7 linked regions of the Homo sapiens genome follow. The protein of the gene in region 7 purifies or fractionates together with the protein of the main gene of each other region. This does not show direct contact. Each region holds a gene or a part of one and is shown on either strand. Other genes may lie near its edges.

The links.
Region 1: the proteins of HEXA (region 7) and NSUN2 fractionate together in Homo sapiens (co-fractionation; one large-scale study listed by BioGRID). This does not show direct contact.
Region 2: the proteins of HEXA (region 7) and ROCK1 fractionate together in Homo sapiens (co-fractionation; one large-scale study listed by BioGRID). This does not show direct contact.
Region 3: the proteins of HEXA (region 7) and H2AZ2 fractionate together in Homo sapiens (co-fractionation; one large-scale study listed by BioGRID). This does not show direct contact.
Region 4: the proteins of HEXA (region 7) and SEPTIN7 fractionate together in Homo sapiens (co-fractionation; one large-scale study listed by BioGRID). This does not show direct contact.
Region 5: the proteins of HEXA (region 7) and ACAT2 fractionate together in Homo sapiens (co-fractionation; one large-scale study listed by BioGRID). This does not show direct contact.
Region 6: the proteins of HEXA (region 7) and XPNPEP1 fractionate together in Homo sapiens (co-fractionation; one large-scale study listed by BioGRID). This does not show direct contact.

Annotation. Positions count from the first base shown.
Region 1 is NC_000005.10:6,605,545-6,609,044, reverse strand, and holds part of NSUN2 (RNA cytosine C(5)-methyltransferase NSUN2), read left to right. Parts: intron 1-1,660; coding exon 1,661-1,845; intron 1,846-2,132; coding exon 2,133-2,225; intron 2,226-3,500. UniProt on the Homo sapiens protein: RNA cytosine C(5)-methyltransferase that methylates cytosine to 5-methylcytosine (m5C) in various RNAs, such as tRNAs, mRNAs and some long non-coding RNAs (lncRNAs).
Region 2 is NC_000018.10:21,038,814-21,042,313, forward strand, and holds part of ROCK1 (rho-associated protein kinase 1), read right to left. Parts: intron 3,423-3,500; coding exon 3,284-3,422; intron 751-3,283; coding exon 659-750; intron 1-658. UniProt on the Homo sapiens protein: Protein kinase which is a key regulator of the actin cytoskeleton and cell polarity.
Region 3 is NC_000007.14:44,838,088-44,841,587, reverse strand, and holds part of H2AZ2 (histone H2A.V), read left to right. Parts: intron 1-575; coding exon 576-689; intron 690-3,500. UniProt on the Homo sapiens protein: Variant histone H2A which replaces conventional H2A in a subset of nucleosomes. Nucleosomes wrap and compact DNA into chromatin, limiting DNA accessibility to the cellular machineries which require DNA as a template.
Region 4 is NC_000007.14:35,870,557-35,874,056, reverse strand, and holds part of SEPTIN7 (septin-7), read right to left. Parts: intron 1,392-3,500; coding exon 1,291-1,391; intron 417-1,290; coding exon 282-416; intron 1-281.
Region 5 is NC_000006.12:159,775,545-159,779,044, reverse strand, and holds part of ACAT2 (acetyl-CoA acetyltransferase, cytosolic), read right to left. Parts: intron 2,896-3,500; coding exon 2,773-2,895; intron 1,744-2,772; coding exon 1,589-1,743; intron 876-1,588; coding exon 765-875; intron 548-764; exon of another isoform or gene 387-547; coding exon 216-386; 3' UTR 1-215. UniProt on the Homo sapiens protein: Involved in the biosynthetic pathway of cholesterol.
Region 6 is NC_000010.11:109,917,012-109,920,511, reverse strand, and holds part of XPNPEP1 (xaa-Pro aminopeptidase 1), read left to right. Parts: intron 1-3,500. UniProt on the Homo sapiens protein: Metalloaminopeptidase that catalyzes the removal of a penultimate prolyl residue from the N-termini of peptides, such as Arg-Pro-Pro. Contributes to the degradation of bradykinin.
Region 7 is NC_000015.10:72,355,515-72,359,014, forward strand, and holds part of HEXA (beta-hexosaminidase subunit alpha isoform 2 preproprotein), read right to left. Parts: intron 1,137-3,500; coding exon of another isoform or gene 1,104-1,136; coding exon 1,011-1,103; intron 111-1,010; coding exon 45-110; intron 1-44. UniProt on the Homo sapiens protein: Hydrolyzes the non-reducing end N-acetyl-D-hexosamine and/or sulfated N-acetyl-D-hexosamine of glycoconjugates, such as the oligosaccharide moieties from proteins and neutral glycolipids, or from certain mucopolysaccharides.

The sequences.
Region 1 (3,500 bases), on a different chromosome or scaffold from region 7:
TGCAGTTTAACGTTGGAACGTACAGCCTCAGACGGGCAAAGGGGGCGACTGCACTTCTGCCGCCACCAGGGTTTTTCTGTCAGGTTAGAAAGTATTTCACTTTGAGGCTAAAAGTCTCACAAGGTATCTTAACGCTGATGGAATGTTATTTTCATGGAATCAGTATAAGAAATTATATTGTAAAGTATTAGATACTTTGCATTCATTCATACTAGGTTTCAGTAGCTTGTGTTTTAGACTTTGCGCTTGTCACATTTTAAGTGGTCAGTGACCACAGGCTTGTGGCTGCCCAGCTGCAGAGCACAGTGCAGTCACAGAGGAGCCTGTCTTAGAGACGCGTGCTTTAGGTTGGCCTGCATTAGGGCTTACATTGATGTTTCTGACGTGTTAATACTTACATAGAAAGGTTTTGACATTTTTTCAATTAGCCCCTTATGTATAGTCTTACTTTTTAGAACAACTTATTGTCATTTTCTCGTTTAAATAATATGAATACTTCTCTCTTTCTGTTACTATGTCAGTTTCTTATTCACTTAGTTCAACAGATCTAGTGCTAGCATGGCCTGTGCTGCTGTTGGTCCTACTGGGAACGCAGGTAGAGTCTCCATGGTCAGGATGCCGTGTTCTGTTGTGGTGCTGAGGCCTGTAAGCACTTGGCTAGAAGTTAGGCCAGGGAAGCTCACACTGACCTTGGTATTTGAAGGTCCCAGAATGAGGTTGTTGAGGTAGAACAGAGATGGGAGAACATGCCCTTGGAGCTGGACTCAACAAGAAGGCCCCTCTGGGGGAAGCTGAGGTTGGACAGGAAGGGCGTGTGCCCTCACTGACTTGCTCACAGGCTTGGGGTTCATCTGTTTTGGTTTTTGCTTTTTTACATTATATTAACATGGAAATAAAAGGTGTTCCCTGGGATGCTCCCGGCTTCTCTGCTCAGTAGCTTTGTGGCTCTGAGTAAAATGAACTTGCCTGTGTTGAAATATCCTAATTTTTAAACTTACTTCATAGGGACTGAGGAATTACGACTTTTATCAATTTTGTGACCTGTTAAAATGTTAAAAAGGACATGTATTTTTTAAAGATCTTTAAGTAAAACATTTTGCTCATTCCCAAAGCCAAATTTAAATTATACCATGGCCCTAATTCAGAAGTTCATTCTTTGGCAGGTGTTTCCTTGGTGCCTGGGGCACTCTCTCTTTCTCCCAGTTCCTGTGGCAGTTTGTCCAGGTGCCCAAGAACAATTCATACCCTCCTTTCTCGTTATTTATATACTTGTCTTTTTGCCCCTGCCGGGTATTTTAGAAATCGTGCTTGGTGCACTTTGTGTCCTTCAGTGTGCCTTACCCAGAGCAGATGCACGATAAGCATTTTTACACGAGAACAAGCTGGTGGTGTAGGCCTCTGCTAAGGAACAGGCTGTATATGCTCTTTGTGGGATTAAGGTAGAATCAGCTTTAACTCCAAAGAAACTGTCCATGAATTTTGTTTATAATAGCAAGTAGATTTAAAATGACACTTTAAAAAAATTCTGTTGTCTTTCTCTACATATAATGCTGTAGAAAAATATAACTGATGGATTTTGTGAACGTGGTATTTTTAACTTTTCGTAGCAGCACAAAGAATGCTCCTCTTTGTGTGTCAATGAAATTGTTCTTTATGACAGCTTCAGGGTAAATCTGCAGAGACCAGAGAAAGCACACAGCTGAGCCCTGCAGATCTCACAGAAGGGAAACCCACAGATCCCTCTAAGCTGGAAAGTCCGTCATTCACAGGAACTGGTGACACAGAAATAGCTCATGCAACTGAGGATTTAGAGAATAATGGCAGTAAGAAAGATGGCGTGTGTGGGTAAGAAAAGTGGTTATGTCTTGATCTAATACGCTGGTGTCTTCACAGTCCTTTTGGATTAAATGGGATCCCAGAGCCACTTCTTGGTCGGTTTGAGGGGGCAGTACATGTGTGGTATCAGGCACATGCAGTGTGAGGGCTGGACTCTGTGGAAGCCGGAAGGTTTCAACATCTGCCGCAAACCGTTCCATGTTGCACAGAACTGACAGAAAGGAAGAATGTGCTTTTGGTATTGAAGGTTACCACACATTACAGATTGATTTGTCTCATCCTGATTCCCTTTTTAGTCCTCCTCCATCAAAGAAAATGAAGTTATTTGGATTTAAAGAAGATCCATTTGTATTTATTCCTGAAGATGACCCATTATTTCCACCTATTGAGTAAGGATTCAGCCTTTTTAATTATTCATTTAAAGAAATTTACTATAGAGTATCAAATGTACAACTGATCACATGTAACCATTGTTTTGTATGTAGTTCTGTCTAGCTTTTTTTTTTTTTTTAACCTTTTTAACTGCATATTAGAGCAGGATGAAACTTTAGAGGTTACTCAATCTTTTAATTTAAGGAGAAAGTAAACTTTTACTTTGTGAACATGATAGATAAAAAAAAACTGGACCGGGCGCGGTGGCTCACGGCTGTAATCCCAGCACTTTGGGAGGCCGAGACGGGCGGAGCACGAGGTCAGGAGATTGAGACCATCCTGGCTGACACGGTGAAACCCCGTCTCTACTAAAAATACAAAAAAAATTAGCCGGGCGTGGTGGCGGGCACCTGTAGTCCCAGCTACTCTGGAGGCTGAGGCAGGAGAATGGCGTGAACCTGGGAGGTGGAGCTTGCAGTGAGCCGAGATCGCGCCGCTGCACTCCAGCCTGGGCGACAGAGCGAGACTCCGTCTCAAAAAAAACAAAAGAAAACTGGACTGTGATTATGAATCTAAATTAGTTGTGATCCTGAACCTAAATTACTCAATTGAGTATATAGACGAGTAGCCAAGGTTGTCTAGTTCAGTTTCTGTAGAAGAAATGAAGAGCAGCATGGGTGAGGGCTAATTAGGGATGACATAGACAGAATATAGAGGAAAAGGGTTTAGGACAAGTCTGACATTCATCTGTTTCTTATTCATTGAATTTTAGAATCTATTTACCAGGGCGGTCACTTACTGTCTTTTTTAATAACTGGTCCTTTGCATACATTTGTAAAAGTCTATTAAAAAATAAGTCTCAGCCGGGCACATCCCAGCACTTGGGGAGGCTGAGGCAGGCAGATCATGAGGTTAGGAGTTTGAGACCAGTCTGACCAATGTGGTGAAACCCCGTCTTTACTAAAAATACAAAAAAAAATTAGGTGTGGTGGCGTGCACCTATAATCACAGCTACTCAGGCTGAGGCAGGAGAACCGCTTCAACCCGGGAGGCAGAGGTTGCAGTGAGCTGAGACTGCGCCACTGCACTCCAGCTTGGAAGACAGAGCAAGACTCCATATCAAAAAAAAAAAAAAAGTCTCAAAAGTAGTGTTATCAGGTCATTATCATTGGAGTAGCGGCTGAGGGAGAGAAGCTGCACTTGTTAATTTAGGTTTCTGATGGAGTTGTGCCCCAAATAAATGTTACGTGGAGGTTTCAGGTGGAAGTGGATGAAGTTTAGAAGCTGGAGTC
Region 2 (3,500 bases), on a different chromosome or scaffold from region 7:
GAAGATGATGAGAACCTTTGGTGTCATGATAATTTTGATTCAGCTATGTTGTAGAGTTTTCTGTGAATCATCTTGTAATTTTAACTTTTTTTAAAAAGTAAGAAAGTGTTCTAAACTGACTGAAAATTAGTTTCTTATACAATACATTTTTGTTTCTGAATTGCCAGCTGCAAAAGCCTGATGGAATCAAGTATATCACAATATCCTATAAACTCATAAATAAAATTAAATTGAATTCTGGAATTAATAATAGAACCTTCTTATATTTTGGGTTTTAATAAAAACAAGAGAATAACTTGTCTTCTCACAAAAACATATATTTTAATCTCATTACTTACTACTTATTGACCACCTCCATAATAAGATAACTAACGCCTAAAATGAACAATTCAACAAAGATCAAATGTAAAATTATGACTGGTGAGCCTAAATCCATTACATTTATATTTCATCTGGGTATCCTGCGTGGGACATAAGAGGAGTAACAATATAATCTGCCCAATATTATCAAATTAATAGGTTAGGACAATTCCCATATAGTATTTGTGGCTTCTGATTTTCATCAGATACACACAAATATTTAGCAATGTAGTTTCAACAAACTACCACAACTACTTTCAAATATTCACTAAAATATGAAAGAAAAAAAAAAACTTACTGTCTCGGAGCGTTTCCCAAGCCCACTGGTCATTTTTGAAGAAGAGATGTCGTTTGATTTCTTCTACACCATTTCGCCCTAACCTCACTTCCCTGAATAATGACAGAAGGAGAAAAGTAATCAATCATTTAAGATCTTATTATAACCTGTCCAGGTTTATTTGTGGGCAGGATATTAAATCAGTGTAGGACGACAAATATAGTTCTAAGGTGAAATTATATTGTCAGCATAGTATCAGCCCAAATAGAAAATATGTTAAAGATTGAGAACATTAAAGAATTTTTTTAAAAGAAAACTAAAGAAAGGCTGGACATGGTGGCTCATGCCTATAATCCCAGCACTTTGGGAGGCTCAGGTGGGGTGGATCACCTGAGGTCAGGAGTTCGAGACCAGCCCAGCCAACACTGTGAAACCCCATCTCTACTAAAAATATAAAACTAGCGGGTGTACTGGAACACGCCTGTAGTCCCAGCTACTTGGGAGGCTGAGACAGGAGAATCGCTTGAACCCGGGAGGCAGAGGCTACAGTGAGCTGAGATTGCGCCACCGCACTCCAGCCTGGATGAAACACAGCGAGACTCCGTCTCAAAAAAAAGAAAACTAAAGAATAACTACAAAAAACACCCATGACTTTTCTACTGACAACAAAAATCCAGATTAATCACCACCTTACTTCATTAGCAAAATGAATAAAGCACCATGCATTTTCTTGACAGTTTTTTGTGTGTGTGTGTTATTTTTTTCTTACAATGGTAAAGTTAGGCTTTTTTTTCCCCAACCAAAACTTTACTTAGGCAGCAATACCAGATGCTACCAAAAACCTCCAGAAACACATTTAAAATTTTGAACTTCCAATTTATAATCTATTAATTATTTCTGACCATTCAAAAGCCAATGACTACTAATTCTTGATACTGCCACAGAATTCAGAGCTTTCACTGGACAAGTTACTGATACCAGCCTCTTTTTTGGTGAGCAAAAAGTTTTTAAAAATGTGATTTTAGCTGAATTGGAAAAAGAAAGTTAGCACCTTTTTTCCCTAGTACAGTGCTTATAAATAAAGAAAATACTCTAAATTCTAAGTTTTTGCATAAGCTAAAAGATAAGTTGGCTTAGACATGTGACAATTTTTCCAAGAAGCTTTCACTAACTCTCAAACTGGATTAGAAAACCTCTCCATGGTTCTCCGGCACATGGTACTTATCTCATGGTAATTAGCTGTGTGTACTATAAATGTCTGATTTGCTTATCTAATTCCCCCAAAGGACTATGAGGTATTTGAGAAAAGTGGCTCTGTATCTTCCTCACTACTATATCCCTAGCACCTAATAAACAGCATAATACAATGCTTTATATTAAAATGTAAAAATTGGCCAGGTGCGGTGGCTCACACCTGTAATCCCAGCACTTTGGGAGGCCAACGCAGGCAGATCATGAGGTCAGGAGTTCAAGACCAGCCTGGCCAACATAGTGAAACCCTCTCTATCAAAAATACAAAAATTAGCCAGGCATGGTGACAGGAACCTGTAGTCACAGCTACTTGGGAGGCTGAGGCAGGAGAATCACTTGAATCCGGGAGGTGGAGGTTGCAGTGAGCCGAGATCATGCCACTGCACTCCAGCCTGGGCAACAGAGTGAGACTCTGTCTCAATCAATCAATCAATCAATGTAAAAATTAGCCAGGCATGGGTGGCTCAGGCCTGTAATCCCAGCACTTTGGGAAGCTGAAGTGGGAGGATCACTTGATCCCAGGAGTTTGAAACCAGCCTGGGCAACAGAGCAAAACCCTGTCTCTATTTAAAAAAAAAAAAAAAAAAAAAAAGTAAACATTTGAAAAACCATACTTCAAGCTCTAAAGGACATAATGAAGGGAGACAAGTTAAAGCAAATCTCAACTTGAAACATATTTAAAAGTACTAGGTCTCCCTAATATTTAACAATATACAATCATAAACATTAAATATAATCTTACTAATACATCTGGTTCACTTTCAAATTTCAAAAGTAAACCACAAAGGTATATATAATATGCCATTTTTCTTTCAAAAATGCAGACAGACATTATTATTAAAATGCTTGTTGGATCTACAAGATGGAACACCAACTATTATGTCTAGAAGAAAAAAGATAGTATACTTTTAAAAATGGCTTTATACTATTGACTCTTTCAACAACCATATACCATACATCATCAAATCTAAAATGGTTTAAAGTATAAGGTGTATCACCGTTTTTATACCACTATGAAAAAGGATGCTCCCAACTCATACCATTGACTGTGAGATGTACTCTAATTTCAGAGATGTTATGTTAAAAAATTTTTTTAGATTCAGTAAAATACACAGTAATTTTTATAATTAACCAAGTTAAAAATTGAACAATAAAAGAAAAAAGTCATCTAGTTTAGCCATCAGCCAAGACTGTATTATTATCACAATTTCTTAGGTATGATAAGTGAGTTGAGATCTACAAAAGACATCTAGAATATCATAAAATTACATCAGGTTTCACTGTCATTTATATTCTAACAATTTACATGTAGAAGCTCAGATATGGACCTTAAAAATGGAGCAGAAGATGAGAAGTCCTCAGAATTAATACAGGCTCAGTTTTAAAATTATTTACCTGTCAGTAAGGAAGGCACAAATAAGGTTTTTTGCTTCTTTTGATATGTCATTATCATCAGGAAAGGTAAGTGAATTTTTATGGTTCATAATTTTACTGTAAGTTCCAACCAAAGAATCTGCATAAAAAGGTGTATCACCTGAAAAATTGATAAAGAAAACAAAAGCAAAATGAAATACATTTTTAAAAAGTCAGTTTCAAAGGAAGAGTCAAAGTT
Region 3 (3,500 bases), on a different chromosome or scaffold from region 7:
CAGTGAGCCAAGATGGCGCCACTGCACTCCAGCCTGGGTGACAGAGTGAGACTCTGTCTCAATAAAAAAAATAATAAAGGGCACAGACAAGTGGGATCAGGATACTTTGAAATGAGAAAAATACCCTCTTTTTCAGAAAGTAGAAAGAACCACAATGAGATAATAGTATTGATTTTTCTTAACTATCAGATCACCTCTTGAAACTGAAGAAAGAACATTTAAGATCTGAGGAAGGTATTGGAGGTTCAAAGTTGCATGTGGCTATTATGTGAAGAAATTAACTAGATAGGAATTTGATCCATGGGTCATGTTGAACGTACAGTTGATGACAGCCCAGCGTGGTATTTCTTCATTTTAGAGTGATATTTCCCATATTATGCAGAGGTTAAAGATTTTGGACAGATTACCAGAACAGAGACACAGGCCCTGGGAACTATTGATGCGTAATAGGTTTGGCTTCTGATATGTGTGATCAAGTTTTTTATTATTTCATGCTTACATTGTTCAGCCTTTGATTACAGTCAGTGCAATGTTAAGACTCTGCAGTGCTTCCCACTAAGACATCTCTCTTTTAGTTTCCTGTGGGCCGCATCCACAGACACTTGAAGACTCGCACCACAAGCCATGGAAGGGTGGGTGCCACTGCTGCCGTGTACAGTGCTGCGATTCTGGAGTACCTCACTGCAGAGGTTTGTACAGGAATGTCTGTTGTATATGGCCATCCAGAAGGTGCACTAGTCTCAGTGACAGAAACCCATGGAATATATTTGAAAAAAGACATATTATGCTCACTGGGGCTTTTTTGTTTGTTTGTTTGGAGACAGAGTTTCACTCTTGTTTCCCAGGCTGGAGTGCAATGGCCAGTCTCGGCTCACTGCAACCTCTGCCTCCCGGATTCAAGCGATTCTCCCACCTCAGCCTCCCAAGTAGCTGGGACTACAGGTGTGCACCACTGTGCCCAGCTAATTTTTGTATTTTTAGTAGAGACAGAGTTTCACCATGTTGGCCACACTGGTCTCAAACTCCTGACCTCAGGTGATCTACCTGCCTCAGCCTCCCAAAGTGCTGAGATTACAGGCTTGAGCCACCACGTCCGGCCTCATTGGTTTCTTTAATAGCAGTTTGAGATGCATCTTGTCAGCTATTACCCAATGCCAATGTAAAAGAACCTTGGTGTACTTGTTTTTAAAGCTAAGCAAGGGGCTGGGCACAGTGATTCACGCCTGTAATGCCAACACTTTGGGCGGCTGAGGTGGGTAGATTGTACACTTGAGTCCTGGAGTTCCAGACTAGGCTGGGTGACAGAGCAAGACCCTATCTCAAAGTAAAAAAATTTTTAAAAGTTAAGCAAGGGCCAGCAATCTCTTATCTTTTATTTTTATTTTTTTATTTTGAGACTGGGTCTCACTCTGTCACCTAGGCTGGAGTATAGTGGCATGATCATAGCTCACTCCAACCTCAAACCTCCTGGGTTCAAAGGATCCTCCTGCCTCAGCCTCCCTAGTAGCTGTGACTTCAGGTGTGTGCCACCACACCTGGCTAATTATTTATTTATTTATTTATTTATTTATTTATTTATTTATTTTGAGACAGGGTCTTGCTCTGTATCCCAGGTGGAGTGCAATGGCACAATCTTGGCTCACTGCAACCTCCACTTCTTGGGTTCAAGCAATTCTCCTGCCTCAGCCTCCCCAGTAACTGGGATTACAGGCACCCGCCACTACACCCGGCTAATTTTTGTATTTTTAGAGGAGACTGGGTTTCACCATGTTGGCCAGGTCAGTCTCAAATTCCTGACCTCAGGTGATCCACTTGCCTCAGCCTCCCAAAGTGCTGGGACTACAGGTGTGAGCCACTGCGCTGGGTGCTAATTTTTTATTTTTATTTTATTTATTTATTTTTTTTTGAGACAGAGGCTCGCTCTGTCACCCAGGCTGGAGTGCAGTGGTGCAGTCTCGGCTCACTGCAACCTCCGCCTCCCGGATTCACGCCATTCTCCCACCTCAGCCTCCCGAGTAGCTGGGACTACAGGCACCCGCCACCACGCCCGGCTAATTTTTTTTTTTTGTATTTTTAGTAGAGACGGGGTTTCACCGTGGTAGCCAGGATGGTCTCGATCTCCTGACCTCGTGAGCCACCCACCTCCACCTCCCAAAGTGCTGGGATTACAGGCGTGAGCCACCGCGCCCAGCCTATTTTTTATTTTTTTGTGGAGACAGGGCTCCCTATGTTACCCAGGCTGGTTTCTAACTCCTAGCCTCAAGTGGTCCTCCCAAGTTGCTGGGATTACAGACATAAACCACCATACCCCAGTGAACTTTGAAGTATGTATGTAATCAGTAGACAGTATTTGTGAAGTTAGAGCATAATGTTGTAGTTTATGAAGATTTGGGATGATGTAAAGTTTGGCCAGTGTGATGATATATAAAAATCACAAATATGATAATAGAAGTAAAAGACTCAGTCTGTCCTGGTTCTCTGCAGGGTTATACATACAAAATTGCTGTATATTACTCAGTTTGAAATTTCAGGAAGACAAGTTAATTGGGCAAGAGTTCTTGGGTCACAGACCACCACTTTCCCCATCCCTATTCCTCCTTTAAAAAAATCCGTTGGGAAGTCATAAAACTTCAGCTACATTCCAGATTGGGGAAGTAATTTGAGTAACAAGTAGGTCAAGTGTAGACGCATTCATTCTGGTGGAAACAGAAGGGTCTTACTTGGGGAGATGTGATTGGGAGCTAGGCTGAGGAATTTAGCTTTTAATCTGTATGTCAGTTATCATTGCTGTCATTTATTTCATTAGTCTCACCAAGTCATCTGTGTCCCACTGGGGATTTAACATCGAATTATGGATGTTATGGATAGTTTCAGCTTCTCTGTGTCATGATCAAGGGGTGTTTTGTTTTTGGGGTTTTTCTTGTGTGTTTGTTTTGAGACAGGATCTCTCTCTGTCTCCCAGGCTGGAAGGCAGGGACATGATCTCTGCTCATTGCAACCTCTGCCTTCTGGGTTCCAGTAATTCTCCCACCTCAGCCTCCGGAGTAGCTGGGGCTACCGGTGTGCATCACCACACCTGGCTAATTTTTGTTATTTTCTTGTAGAGACAAGGTTTTGCCATGTTGGCCAGGCTGATCTCGAACTCCTGACCTCAAATGATCTGTCCGCCCCAGCCTCCCAAAGTGCTGGGATTACAGACATGAGCCACCTTTTATTAAAAGAGGCCACCTGGCCTCTTTTATTTTTAAAAATTTTTAAATTTTAATTAAAATACATTTTAAAACTTTTCTATAAGCATTAAGAAATAAATTTCACGGCTGGGCACGGTGGCTTACGCCTGTAATCCCAGCACTTTGGGAGGCTGAGGTGGGCAGATCACGAGGTCAAGAGATCGAGACCATTCTGGCCAACATAGTGAAACCCTATCTCTACTAAAGATACAAAAATTAGCTGGGCATGGTGGCGTGTGTCTGTGTATAGTCCCAGCTACTCAGGAGGCT
Region 4 (3,500 bases), on a different chromosome or scaffold from region 7:
TAAATTTGCCACATTGAGACCTCAAACCATGGTGGCAACACTGTTTATTTCATGAAGCAGGGAAAATCCTTATGAATGAAGAACTAAGGAGTAAAATCACTGTTAGCTTATATAGGACTTAAAATGGCTTTTCAACTAAGACATTTCTACATGAAATTTAGTACTTCATAATGGCTATAGTTGTGTGTACTTCACAAACTTAAAGATTACTAAAGTATGCACATAAAGGTAACAGTAAGCAACAACAACAAAAAAGGAATCAGAAGTATCAAGGTACTGACCCATGTCCTGAAGGAGCAATGAAGTATAAACAACACTGCACCCTGTTATCAGGCATCTGACGTCTGTTCACTCGTGATTCTGCATTTAGGTAGTCCTCAAATTTACTATCAATGTAGTCGATAACAGGCTGCCAGCTATAGAACGCAAATAAACAAAACAAGCTGCAATTCTACATATGAATTAACTGATGACTGTTAAAGGACAATAATCAGTATTTTCAAATGGGCAAAATGAATTTACCAGTAGAAGATATGTCAAGTTATTCTATATATTCAAAAATATAAATTATGTTGAATAAATATTCATTATTCAAAACTTTCCAAATGAAAGAAAATAAACTATTTACTGTCGAAACACAGCTAAATATTAGCATATTATTTGCACTAATAAGTGTATTAATAACACACTTCATAATATGAAAACAATTATATGCAGTTTAAAATTTCAAATGAGAGATTACTTTAAATAATAAAAAAACTTCATGGTGAACTTGGGAGTTTTAAGAGTTGACAGAAAATTACCTCAAAAACAATGTGAATTCAAACAAAAATAAAAGTATTATTTATAAAATACTAAGATAATTACTTCAGACTAAAATTTCATAGTTGTTTTCTTCACTTAGGACTTACAGAAAAACTGAAAGTCTAAATATCAGGTTTAAATTAGGATTGAGATAGAATTTATACAAATGAATAAAATTAAAGTGAACAGTTTTAAATTTCTTACAATAATGAGAATTCTTCTATTTACCTATGTTATTTTAGAATATGTCTTAAAAACAATTTTATGATAGGTATTATCTCCATTTTATAGAAAAGTAAATGGGTTCAAAGAAGTTAAACAACTTTGTCAGATAAGTGGCAAAGTTGGTATACAAACCCAAGTCATGTTGCTTGAAGTTTGGTGACCTTTGCTAAGATGAGAAGTTTTAAAATGTTAAGAAGAAAAAGTTTAACCACCCCAGTACCCCAAATGCACTGCAAAGTTGTGAGGACAAACCCTTCTTACCAATTACTATTATCCACTGCATCTCCAAATCCTGGGGTATCAACTATTGTGAGCAGCAACTGAACACCACCTTCTTTGATTAAAACTTTGGATTGTTCCACCTGTAAGAGTAATTGGTGCAGATGTTAATATCATACATTACATCAGTGATTTCCTACAAGGGGTGATGGTAGGGACGTTCGAGTTTATCAAAACCAACTGGGAAACTGTTAGCAAACTAAATCTACCTACTACCACATTACCTTTAGAATTGATGATAGCGGGCATTGGAAATCCAGATTATTTGAAAGAAAAGCATATATACAAATAGTCTGCCAATCTCTTGGCAAATTCATACTGGGTTTATGACTCATACTTGGTATAAAGACAGACAGAGGAACTGATAAAATAGTGATCACCACTAAAGACATGTAATACTTATATAACTTAAATGTGCATCTAATAATACAAATAAGCAGTTTGAGTGATTTAATAATTCACAGAGTTCAAATGTAATTAATCAGAGAAGAACATCTAATCTACCATTTACAGTAAATGTCTTCCTGGACTATTCTCTATCAAGTTTGGCCCCAACCACTCACTCAAATAAACTTACTATCATTCCTTAATCTTTCTCAGCATGGATGTATTACCCTTGTATTTATGTTATGGCTAGGATCCAATCCTTTTCTCAAATGTGATACTCCACATTCTGGACAATGTAATCAGCAAAAGTCCAGACAGTTTTTATTTTAAAAAAAAGTGTATTCTGGTAGGGTGAAACCTTACTAACTGATTATTGGACTTAAATGATAACAACAGTTCCTGGAACAATTTAAGACATTCTGTAATCTCAAGCTCTGTATCAGAAGATGTATTATCATTCATCCTGGGCATATGCTGCTGTTAAATGCAAAATATCAGTTTTCAGGAACCCAAGATAAAGCAAACACGGATTCAAATGAAAAGGGAATAATTCCTCCAGAAAAAGACAGGCTTTCTCCTGATAACACATTTAATAAGGATAACAAGTCCTTATTAAGGCTAGAGGCTCCAAGTATGCTGATAAGCTAATTTACAAGACAAAAAGTTTGGGACACTTTTAGAGATAGCCTACTTCCTTTTGGCATGTTTTATAGATGCTACCTGATGCATGAAGAGACTAACATGCGGAGACTAAGATTGCTGAGCAAGAAAAGTCTGTAGCCACACTATCCAATAACACTTTCTGAGATGATGGAATTGTTGTGTATCCACACTGCATCTCCAAATCCTAGGGTATCAACTATTATGAGCAGCAACTGAACACCACCTTCCACTTGTCCATGTGGCTACTTAGTCCTTGAAATCTGACTACTGCAAATGAGGAGCTGATATTTAATTTTATTTAATTTGAATTAACTTAAATAGCCACATATGGCTAGTGACTACCGAATACACAGCAGAGGTCTACAGCAATCAAGAGTTTTCTGTTAAAAAAATTTTATTATGAGGAATAAAACTTATTAAAACTGAAAAAAATTGCCTGAGATGTGGACACACATGACTTATCTTTTAGAGAAATGAGATGCCAAATTCTTATCTTTTAATGTTCTTTAAACTGCTTTGATCCTGATATAAACTATCAAGTGAAAATTTTGCAGATCCAAAAGATATTTATCCACCAAATATATACTATTGGCAATCTGAATATTAAGTATTAATATGCATTATCATTAATCTGTAGATTAAAAAAGTAAACATCAATAACAGTTGTAATATTTTCTGATCATCCTCAGTATCAATGATTGATGCACATCATTTAGGAGATCACTGTCACATACCACACAACTAAGATAACATGTCTATTATCAGGTTACCCTAATAACATGAGAGAGGCAAAATAACTCAGAGAAAACAATCAGATTCATCAGTGTGAGATCATGAGAACCAAAGGAAAAACATTTTTTTTTTTTTTTTTTTTTAGTCAGGGTCTCACTCTGTTGCTCAGGCTGGAGTGCATGGCAGATTATAGCTTACTGCAGCCTCACTCCTGGGTTCAAGCGATCTTCCCATTTCAGCCTCCCAAAGTGCTGGGCCAAAAAAAATGTTTAATGGTATCATCTCATCTAGTTTAGGAGGTTTACATTTTATCTGGTGATCTTCTAGCCAAAGGACAACCCAGTCAAATCTAACATCTCAATATCTTGAATTCACTTCCATCTCCTTTATAAAGACAGATCATTTATTCA
Region 5 (3,500 bases), on a different chromosome or scaffold from region 7:
TCTGATGTTCCTTTTATTTATAACAATGTTAAATGCAATTGTCTTGTACCTTGAGTTGAGTATTACACATTAAAGTAAAGTACAAGCTGTAAACTTGGGTTTTTGTGATGTAGGAAATGGTTTCCATCTGTACTTTGGTCCTCTGATTTCACATATTGCAACCTAGTACTTTATTAGTTTAAAAAGAAATTGAGGTTGTTCAAAGTTTAAGCAATTCATTCTCTCTGAACACACATTGCTATTCCCATCCCACCCCCAATGCACAGGGCTGCAACACCACGACTTCTGCCCATTCTCTCCAGTGTGTGTAACAGGGTCACAAGAATTCGACAGCCAGATGCTCCAAGAGGGTGGCCCAAGGCTATAGCCCCTCCTTCAATATTGACCTAACGGGGGAGAAAAGATTTAGATTGTTTATTCTTCTGTGGACACAGTTTAAAATCTTAAACTTGTCTTTTTCCTCTTAATGTATCAGCATGCTACCCTTTCAAACTCAAATTTTCATTTTAACTGCTTAGGAATAAATTTACACCTTTGTGAAAATTCATCCCTGCCTATCTTACCTCGTTCCTTTTATGCCAAGTAAGCCAATGTCTTTTTTTTTTTTTTTTTTTTTTTTTAAACCTTGGGAAGTAATGAACTCAGTCCTAGTAACTAGTATTTCTTTAACTATTACCCACATGGCCAACACCTAGAAGATACTATCTTAAAATTGGATTGTGAAATTCACTGGTAAGCTCTCAGGGTTACTTGTGCATCTTTACCTTCTCTGGGTTTAATCCAAGTTCTTTAACTATTGCAGCAGAGACAGCTGCAAAGGCTTCATTGATTTCAAATATGTCAACATCTTCCAGTGACCAACCTGCTTTTGTAACCTAGAGGAAAGATTCATAGAAAAGAGGTCTAAACTTGGGTGGAAAGGCTAAAGTTAAACCATTCTTTGTCAACATAAATATATGCTGCATGATACTGGTAACTGCTACTTTGGTTTGTTCTTAGGTTAATACAGTGACATTCTCACACATTTTTGCCTTAGTGACATCCATTCCATCCAAAAGGTTAAGGGTGTGATCTAAAAGATCCCTTAGAAATTCTAAATTGTCTTAAAATTTTGAACCAGTAGCATCTGTTATGTGTACCTAAGGCTAATGTAACAGAATCAGTTCCCCTAGAAAGCATGTGATCCAAATGCTCTCAGTGGCTGGGGGTAGTGGCTCACACCTGAAATCTCAACACTTGGGGAGCCTAAGGCAAGAGGATCAATTGAACTCAGGAGTTCAAAACCAGCCTGGGCGACATAGACCTTGTCTCTACGAAATGAAGAAGGCGTGGTGCACCTGTAGTTCGAGGTAATGGGAGGCTAAGGCAGGAGGAATATTTGAGCCTAGGAGTTTTGAGGCTGCAGTGAGCTATGATGGTGCCACTGCACTCCAGCCTGGACAACAGAGCAAGACCTTATCTCAAAAATAGAAATAAATGCTCTTGGTTACTCTTCTGGTAGGGAAAGACTAGAGCTAACTACATGAATAAGCTCACTTAAGGCTAACAGGAAGACAAATTTCATAAAAGGGAATAGGGTTATACTCACAGCTTGCTTTATGGCTGGAATTGGTCCTATTCCCATAATGGAAGGCTCCACACCCACTTGGGACCAGGAAACTATCCGTGCTAAAGGTGTAAGCCCACGTTTATCAGCTTCTGACTTCTTCATAAGAACGACAGCTGCAGCACCATCATTTATTCCTGTAAAATATGAGTGACTTAATTTCTACCATGCTTATTAACCTCAGTTACATATCTGTGGCTTCTTTACCACCTGAAGACATGAGTTAAATGATTTTACCTGTTGGCTAAGGCATTTACTATAATTCAACAGACTTTACATAGAAATTATGTTTGGCAATATATTGACCACAAAACTTTCCAACTAGAGAAAGTGGTAGGATTACAGTAGTCGGGGCTGGGCGTGGTGGCTCACGCCTGTAATCCCAGCACTTTGGGAGGTGGAGGAGGGTGAATCACCTGAGGTCAGGAGTTTGAGACCAGCCTGACCAATAGGGTGAAAGCCATCTCTACTTAAAATAGAAAAATCAGCCGGTGTGGTGGTGTGCGCCTGTAGTCCCAGCCACTCAGGAGGCTGAGACAGGAGAATTGCTTGAACCTGGGAGGCGGAGATTGCAGTGAGCCAAGATTGCACCACTGCACTCCAGCCTGGGCGACAGAGTGAGGCTCCGTCTCAAAAAGAAAAAAAAAGGATTACAGCAGTTGGGGAGGGGAGATCTCTGACAGGAAATGGAAGAATAAGCCTGGGCTTCACAAGGAGGTATTGGGAGTTTCTGGTACTGGAAAAATACAAAGGTAGATAAACTGAAGTTCCCTAATTTACTTCTTCATTTGTATGTCTAGTTGGGATGTCAAGAAACCAAATTAATTCTTTCAGTATAGGTTAAGTCAATGATCAAATACAGAGAAATGACATGTTTCCTTAAACTGTTTTAAGAATAATTTTGTACATAAATATTGAGTTGGGTGTGGTGGCTCATGCCTGTAGTCCCCCAGCTACTTGGGAGGTTAAGGCAGGGGGCTCACTTGAGCCCAGGAGTTTGAGGCTGCAAGTGAGCAATGATCATATTGCTGCACACGAACCTGGCTGGCAGAGTGAGTCCCTGTCCCAAAAAATAGTACTTTTGTATATAAATAAAGAGAAAAATATTCACTCGGTAGACATTATAGAACATAGTATTCCCCCAGATGTCCTTCAGAAAATCTAACCTGAAGCATTGGCTGGGGTGACTGTTCCCGTTCCATCAGTAAGAAAGTAAGGCTTTAGCTTGGACATGGCTTCTATGTTGCTCCCATGGCGAGGAAACTCATCTGTTTTAACTTCAATAAGACCTAAGCAAAGGAAAACCAATTACTCAAGATTAGTCCAGAGACAGAAGTAAGTGTGCTGGGAATGGTGGGTTCTCTGCCATTAAACATGAGGATTCATATTTAGCAGAAAAGTTTTAATATGTGACCACTTTGATGACAACAGGAGGAAAGTACACACAAGAATTATTGTACATGAAAACAATTTATGAGTATGTCCTTATGAGACACCTGTGTTTTCCAAATCCATAGGCCTTCCTGAGGAAAGTAGCTACCAGGGACCTGTTTGTGCCAAATTCTGCTATAGTTTGGGTCATAGTACTTGGCTGGTTACGAGTGAGTGGATCAGGCAGTCTCAAAGCCAATCGTGCACTGCTGGCAGGACATAAGAGATATCAGTTATCAATAAGGGAGCTTGACGGGAGCATTCTGTATTAGAAAATAGCGAGTGACCCCAAAAGATCCACCCTTTAGAAATGTGAAATGGAGATCACACAGAAACAGCGAGAAGTAATGGGTGTCCACTTCTGAGGAGGTTGAGCCTATACAGGAAACAGGTCAGCTGGTGCCTCCTAACAACCATGAGCCAGTGCTCCAGCTTCTCATGAAACCTGCTGTGTGTGCACAGT
Region 6 (3,500 bases), on a different chromosome or scaffold from region 7:
CCAGTCATTGGGATCAGTTACTTACCATCTTAGAAACTTACGTATGAAGTAATGGGAAATTCGGTGAGAATCTGACTTGTATCCCTGTCCACAAGAAAGAGATGTTATAAAATTTATAATGGCTTTATTGAGATATAATTCACTTATATACAATTCATCTGTTAAAATGTACAATTCAAGTTATTAGTATAGTCACAGAGTTGTACAACTATCATCACAATCATTTTAGAACATTTTCTTCATCCCCGAAAGAAATCCTGTTACCTGTAATCAGTCACTCCTCACCTCAGCCCTTGGCAACCACCAACACTGCATGTCTACTTCCTGTCTTTACCGATTTGCCTATTCTGGACATTTTATGTGAATAGAATCATATACTATGTGGTCTTTTGTATTAGGCTTTTTCCCTTAGCATGTTTTCAAGGTTCACCTATGTCATAGGTGTGATTTCTTTCTTTTCTTTCTTTTTTTTTTTTTAAATGAGACGGAGTCTTGCTCTGTTGCCAGGCTGGAGTGCAGTGGCACGATCTTGGCTCACTGCAGCCTCCACCTCCCGGGTTCAAGTGATTCTCCTGCCTCAGCCTCCTGAGTAGCTGGGACTACAGGTGTGCACCACCACACCCAGCTAATTTTTGTATTTTCAGTAGAGATGGGGTTTCACCATGTTGGCCAGGATGGTCTCTATCTCTTGACCTCATGATCTGCCCGTCTCAGCCTCCCAAAGTGCTGGGATTACAGGCGTGAGCTACCGCGCCTGGCGTGATTTCCCTTTATTGGCAAAGAACATTCCATTATATGGATAGACACTTTTATTTATCCATTTATCAGTTGGGCATTTGAGTTGTTCCTACAGTTTGGCTGTTACAAATAATGCAGCTGTGAATATTTGTGTACAACTTTTTATAAGGATATATATTTTCAATTTTCTTGATTGTGTACCTAGGAATGGTTTTCCAAAGCCATTACACCATTTTACATTCTCATCAGGAATGTTTGAGGGTTCTAATTTTTTCTATACCCTCACCCGCACTTGTTACTGTCAATCTTTTTTATTATAACCTTCCTAGTGGGTGTGAAGTGGTATCACATTGTGGTTTCGATTTGTGTTTCCCTAATGACTAATGATGAGCATCTTTTCATGTACTTCTTGGTCATTTGTGTACTTTTGCTGGAGAAATGTCTATTCAGATCCTTAGCCCATTTAAAATTGGGTTATATGTCTTTTTATTGTTGAGTTATAATAGTTCTTTATATATTCTGGATACTAGACTCAACAGATTTACAGATGTTTTCTCCCATTCTGTGGGTTGTCATCCATTTTCTTGATGGTATCCTTTGAAACACAAACATTTTAAATTCTGATGAAGTCCAGTGTATCTCTTTTTTCTTTTGTTGCTGTGCTTTTTGATTTGTGTCTAAAGAAGTCATTGCCTAATCCAAGGTCAGGCAGACTTATGGTTGCGCTATAAGAGTTTTACAGTTTAGCGCCTACGTTCATACCTGTGATCCATTTGGGTTAATTTTTTTTTATTTTCTTTCTTTCTTTTCTTTCCTTCCTTTCCTTCCTTTTCGTTCTTTTTCTTTTTTCTCTCTCTCCTTCCTTCCTTCCTTCCTTCCTTCCTTCCTTCCTTCCTTCCTTCCTTCCTTCCTTCCCTCCTTCCTTCCTTCCTTCCTTCCTCCTTTCCTTTCTTTCCTTTCTTTCCTTTCCTTCCTCTCCTTCCTCTCCTTCCTTCCTGTCTTCCTTTCTTTCTTTCCTTTTCTCTTGCTCTGTCGCCCAGGCTGGAGTGCAGTGGCCCGATCTCAGCTCACTGCAAGCTCCCCCTCCTGGGTTCACACCATTCTCCTGCCTCAGCCTTCCGAGTAGCTGGGACTACATGCGCCCGCCACCATGCCTGGCTAATTTTTTGTATTTTTAGTAGAGACAGGGTTTCACCGTGTTAGCCAGGATGGTCTGGATCTCCTGACCTCGTGATCTGCCCACCTCGGCCTCCCAAAGTGCTGGGATTACAGGCGTGAGCCACCGTGCCCGGCCCATTTGTGTTAATTTTTGAATATGATATGAAGTGGGTTAAACTTCATTTTTCTTTTTTTGAGACAGGGTCTCTCTGTGTCACCAAGGCTAGACTGCAGTGGGGCGATCACAGCTCACTGCTGCCTCAACCTCTCTGGCTTAAGCGATCCTCCTGCCTCAGCCTCCTAAGTAGCTGGGACCACAGGTGTGCACCACCAAACCTGGCTCATTTTTGTAAATTTTGTAGAGATGGGTTTTGCCATGTTGCCCAAGCTAGTCTCGAACCCTGGGACTCAGGCAGTCTGCCTGCCTTGGCCTCCCAAAGTGCTGGGATTACAGATGTGAGTCATTGTGCCTGGGCTTTTTTGTTTTTTTGTTTTTTTTTTTGAGGCAGGGTCTTGCTCTGTAACCCAAGCTGGAGTGCAGTGGTGCTATCATGGCTCACTGCAGCCTTGACCTCCAGGGCTCAAGTGATCCACCCCACCTCAGCCTCCAGAGTAGCTGAGACTACAGGTGCACACCACCATGCCTGACTAATTTTTGTATTTTTTGTAGAAACGGAGTTTTGCCATGTTGGAAACTTTATTCTTTTGCATGTGGATATTCACTTGTCCCAGCACCATTTGTGGAAGAGACTATTCCTTCCCCATTGAATGGTTTTGGCATCCTCAAAAATCAGTTGACAGTTGTGAGGGTTTATTTCTGGACTGTTAATTCTGTTTTACTCATTTGTAAGTCCATTCTTATGCTAGCACCACACTGTCTTGTATTTAGGTTTGAAATTGGGATGGAAGAGTTCTTTTCAAGATTTTGTTCTTTTTCAAGATTGTTTTGGCTATTCTGGGTCCCTTGCATTTCCATATGAATTTTAGAATCTGCTTGTCAGTTTCAACCTCCAAGCTAGCTAGAATTTTGGCAGGGAATGCATTGAGTCCATAGATCAATTTGGGAATTACTGCCATCTTACCAATAGTAAACCTTCCAATCCATGACCATGGAATAGCTTTTGTTTATTTAGGTCTTCTTCAGTTACTTTCAGCAGTCTTTTTTAGTTTTTGTGGTGTACATTTTGCACTTCTTTTGTTAAATTTATTTCTAACTATTTTTTGTTTTTGATATTGTAAATGGACTTTTCTTAATTTTATTTTTGAATTGCTCATTACAAGGATATAGAAGTCAAATTGATTTTTTAAATATTGATTTTTGTATCCTGCATTCTTGATGAACTCAGTTATTAGTTCTAATTTTGTTTGTGGATTCTTTAGGATTTTCTGTATTCAAGATTATGTCAATTGCAAATAGAGATAGTTTTACTTCTTCTTTTCTAAACTGGATGCCTTTTGTTTCATTTTCTTGCCTACTTACCCTAGATAGAACTTCTGGTACAATGTTGAATAGAAATGCCAAGAGTAGACATCCCTGTCTACTCTGCCAAGAGTAGACATTCCCTAGATTATAGGGGAAAGCATTCAGTCTTTCAGCATTAAGA
Region 7 (3,500 bases):
CATCATCCTTTCTCTCTCTCTTTTAATCAGCCCCAATTTGTTACCTCGGAGAGCTCCCCAGACAGTCTCAGAGAGGAGTAAACACTGGTCATCATTTATGGTCAGGGTATCTGAAATGACAGAAATGAACTCATTTAGTTGGTTAAGGTTTTCTATTCTCAGATTATAGACCAGATATTCTATATAAATCACTGGACTAAAAAAAAAAAACAGTAAGACCATATATTTTAAAAAATCTTTCAATGAGGAGATGTCCCCAGAGCAAGACAGCTGTAGGATGGCCTGGTCTGGGGCCAGAGTGGGAGGGTGGTCACCACAGTGACTCTGTAGACCCTGGATGATGATGTACAGCAAGAGTCAGGCTGGAGTGGAGGTCTGTACAAAGCACCACCTACCTCATGGGTCAGTTTCCACAGCAGAAAGATGAAAGAAGTCTTCTCCTGGCAAAGGGAACAGGGATGCCTGCAGGGGTGAGTGCAGCACGCGATGCTCCCAATGCCTTTGTAATCACCCTCCTTTCCCCTTCCTCTATGCTTCAGCTACTTCCTCCAAGAATGTGAGGAAGGAGCCAAACTCAACTGTTCACTTTGGAGACTGAGAAGTCCCCAAATGCTGCTCAGGGAAGACAGGAGGCAGTCACTGGACTAATGACTTAACTTCATCTCAGTATAAGTGACCAGAACCCCTGCTTTCCCCAGTGTAGGGTCTATTAGAGAAAAGTAGCAAAGTATACACTTTCCTAAAATAGAAATGTATTCAGTACACCAGGTAGAAGTCCTGTGGGACTCAGTGAAGAGCCAGTGTGATGTTCCACAGCCAACCTTTAGCACTGGTTAAGTTTCTGCATAGGAAAAACTCATCTTCCATGGCTCTCAGCACTTGGTGACCCTCGGTCCCCAGGGTCAAGGGGGACTCCAGGCCGAGCATCAGCAGTTTAGGCCAGGCCATCCAGAGTTACAGCTTCAGACAAGTGTTTGCTCTTCTAAGACAGGGAACAGGATGGTACTTACAATTCTCCACTGACTCCAAAGTAGGAAGCTGGTTACATCCAGGTGTGACTACAGAGACAACCAACACATTCTTCTCCAGTGTATGCCGTTTCCCTAGGAAGACAGGGTAAGCTTGGTGCGGCCAACCTGCCATTAGAAGCAACAGGCAAAACCAAGACCCTAGCTCTAGTCCCTCAGCTCACACGCCTGTGGTAAAGGAAAGGGAGGACATGGCATTTACCCTTGGCATAGGCAGTGCCTGATCATCTGTTCAGCTGTCTCACTCTCGTTGTGCCCCTCTTCTCCTCAGTAGCTGCCCTGACCCATGTCTGAATGCTCTGGGTGACAGCTCTTCTTAACCAGGGCTCTATATTTCTGACTGCCCTTGGCCTGTACCAAACAAACAACTCCATGACCTCAACAACTGCTTCTGAATGAAAGGCAGCTCTAGAGCACTGCTACTCCAAGTATGGTCTGCAGATTAGCTGCCAATTTGCAAACTGTGTTACTGGCTGGTCACTATATAGAAAACTTATATGAAGCCTGAATGTAAATCAATTATGTCAGAGTAAACACACTGTCTAGTTCTAACATTTTTTCATACAAGATTTTCTTGATGAAGAGATCAGTCTTACATTCTGGTACATATGCTTCTTATCTCATTGAAGATTGGCATATTAAGTAGTACTGCTCTTGAGGGCTCCAGATGAAGGGTTTCCAGTTTTGCAAAAGCCTAGGAGCTAATGGAGCAGATGACAGAAGGATCAGGCAGAGGAGGCCTGAGATGATGCAACTGATACCTCAGAGAAGATCAGGGTCACCCACCCATCTTGCTTCCTTCCTTCCTCTTCCCAAACAGGTTCTCTATCCAAGGTAGATTTTACCCTAATAGTGGAGGGTTGAACCAACATAGTATCTAATATAGCTTTACAGACCCTTGTCTATGCAGAAAAAATGCCAAAGCCAAAATATGAATACACTGTCTCTTCTCACCCTCCTGCTGGTTCTTCCCTGTGATTTTCAGGGTGGCTCTGGTGTTATAGCCCCAAGCCTTAACTTAATGAACCCCTCTCTATTCTATTCTTTCCTGGAGCCATATTCATCCCACTGGCATCACAACATCCATGACTTCTTATGGCACTACAATGTCAGGGATAGGATGGCCTGGCAGAAGGCAATGAGAGAATTCAGAACCAAACTGGAATCTCAAATGTTACCCATCTCCAGGCAGAAGGAATCCAAGCGCTCAGATCATCTCACGGAAGCCTGCTCAGACCTCTTGAGCACTACCACATGGCTGTATCTCAGCTCTTTGGTCTGCCAAGAAGCAAGCCAATAAGGGGGCCTTTCCTACCATCATGAACAACACATTCTTTCCCTTACCAGTAAATACCCTGGATCCCCACACCAATACCTGCCTACATTCTGCAAAGAGGAGGGAATCTGAGGCAACTCTGGGCCAGGTCAATTCACAGCTCCATACTTGAACCCTAAAACTACATTGTTACAACACAAAAGGACAAGCAGACCTTCAAGGCAAAGACCACACTCAAGGCAGAATCTGCAGGGCCATCCAAGCAGACAGGCTACAAACCCATCTCCACAGGAGACTCTACAGGGAGACCAATGAGGACTTAACCTAGGAGCAAGGGTGAGGAAAAACTATACCCCATCCTCTGACTTCTTGCCCCCACTCCCAACCCCACACATCATGGAGCCCCAATATCATTGTGTGGAGAATTCATCTGCATATCTACCCAGGCAGCCATCCAAAAGACAGCCGAAGTCCTGAGCTTTAGTTCTAATCCTCTGGGGCTCAGCCTGCCACATAAGGAGAAATCACAACTAATCCATATGCAACTACCATGGCTCGCTGCCCTCATGACAAAATAAGAGAGGCCACACAAACACCAGGTTTATCTGAACTATTACTTGGAAGACAGAAAAATACCTAATCTTTCGATTTTTAAAAAATTTATTTTTCTAAAAGACACCTGCACTGTACTCCCTAAATCTGTAGTCTTTTGGAGAGTCACAGACTCCTTTGCAGATCTGCTGAATAGGAAAACACTTTTTTTCCCAGAACAATGCCCCTAATTTAAGGGCTGTTTCTCCAGAATTACAATTCTTCCACTCCCTGCCATCAATCTCATGGTGAAGAATCCCTGTCCGAAGTTCTCTCAGTGACTCATCTGGGTTTGGGCTGAAAGAAGTAGATACGGGGGCATGGCTGCTGTTTAAACAAATTATGAGAGGGATGTTTGGGGGAGGCAGCAACATGAGAGCTGGCAAAACAGGAGGGACACTAGGTCATTGTAAAGGATGTAAATAGGGTATCACCACTGTGGTTTTCCGCCTCCAAGTTGCTACTTTGCCTGGCTATGAAGAGGGCAGGAAATAGGCAGGGGACAGTAGTACAGCCGCCTCTACACACACCCGCCCACACCCTGAACACTGAGAAGCACCAACGTGTGGGAAGCACAGTATGGCAAACAGCCCGGTCAGCCAGCA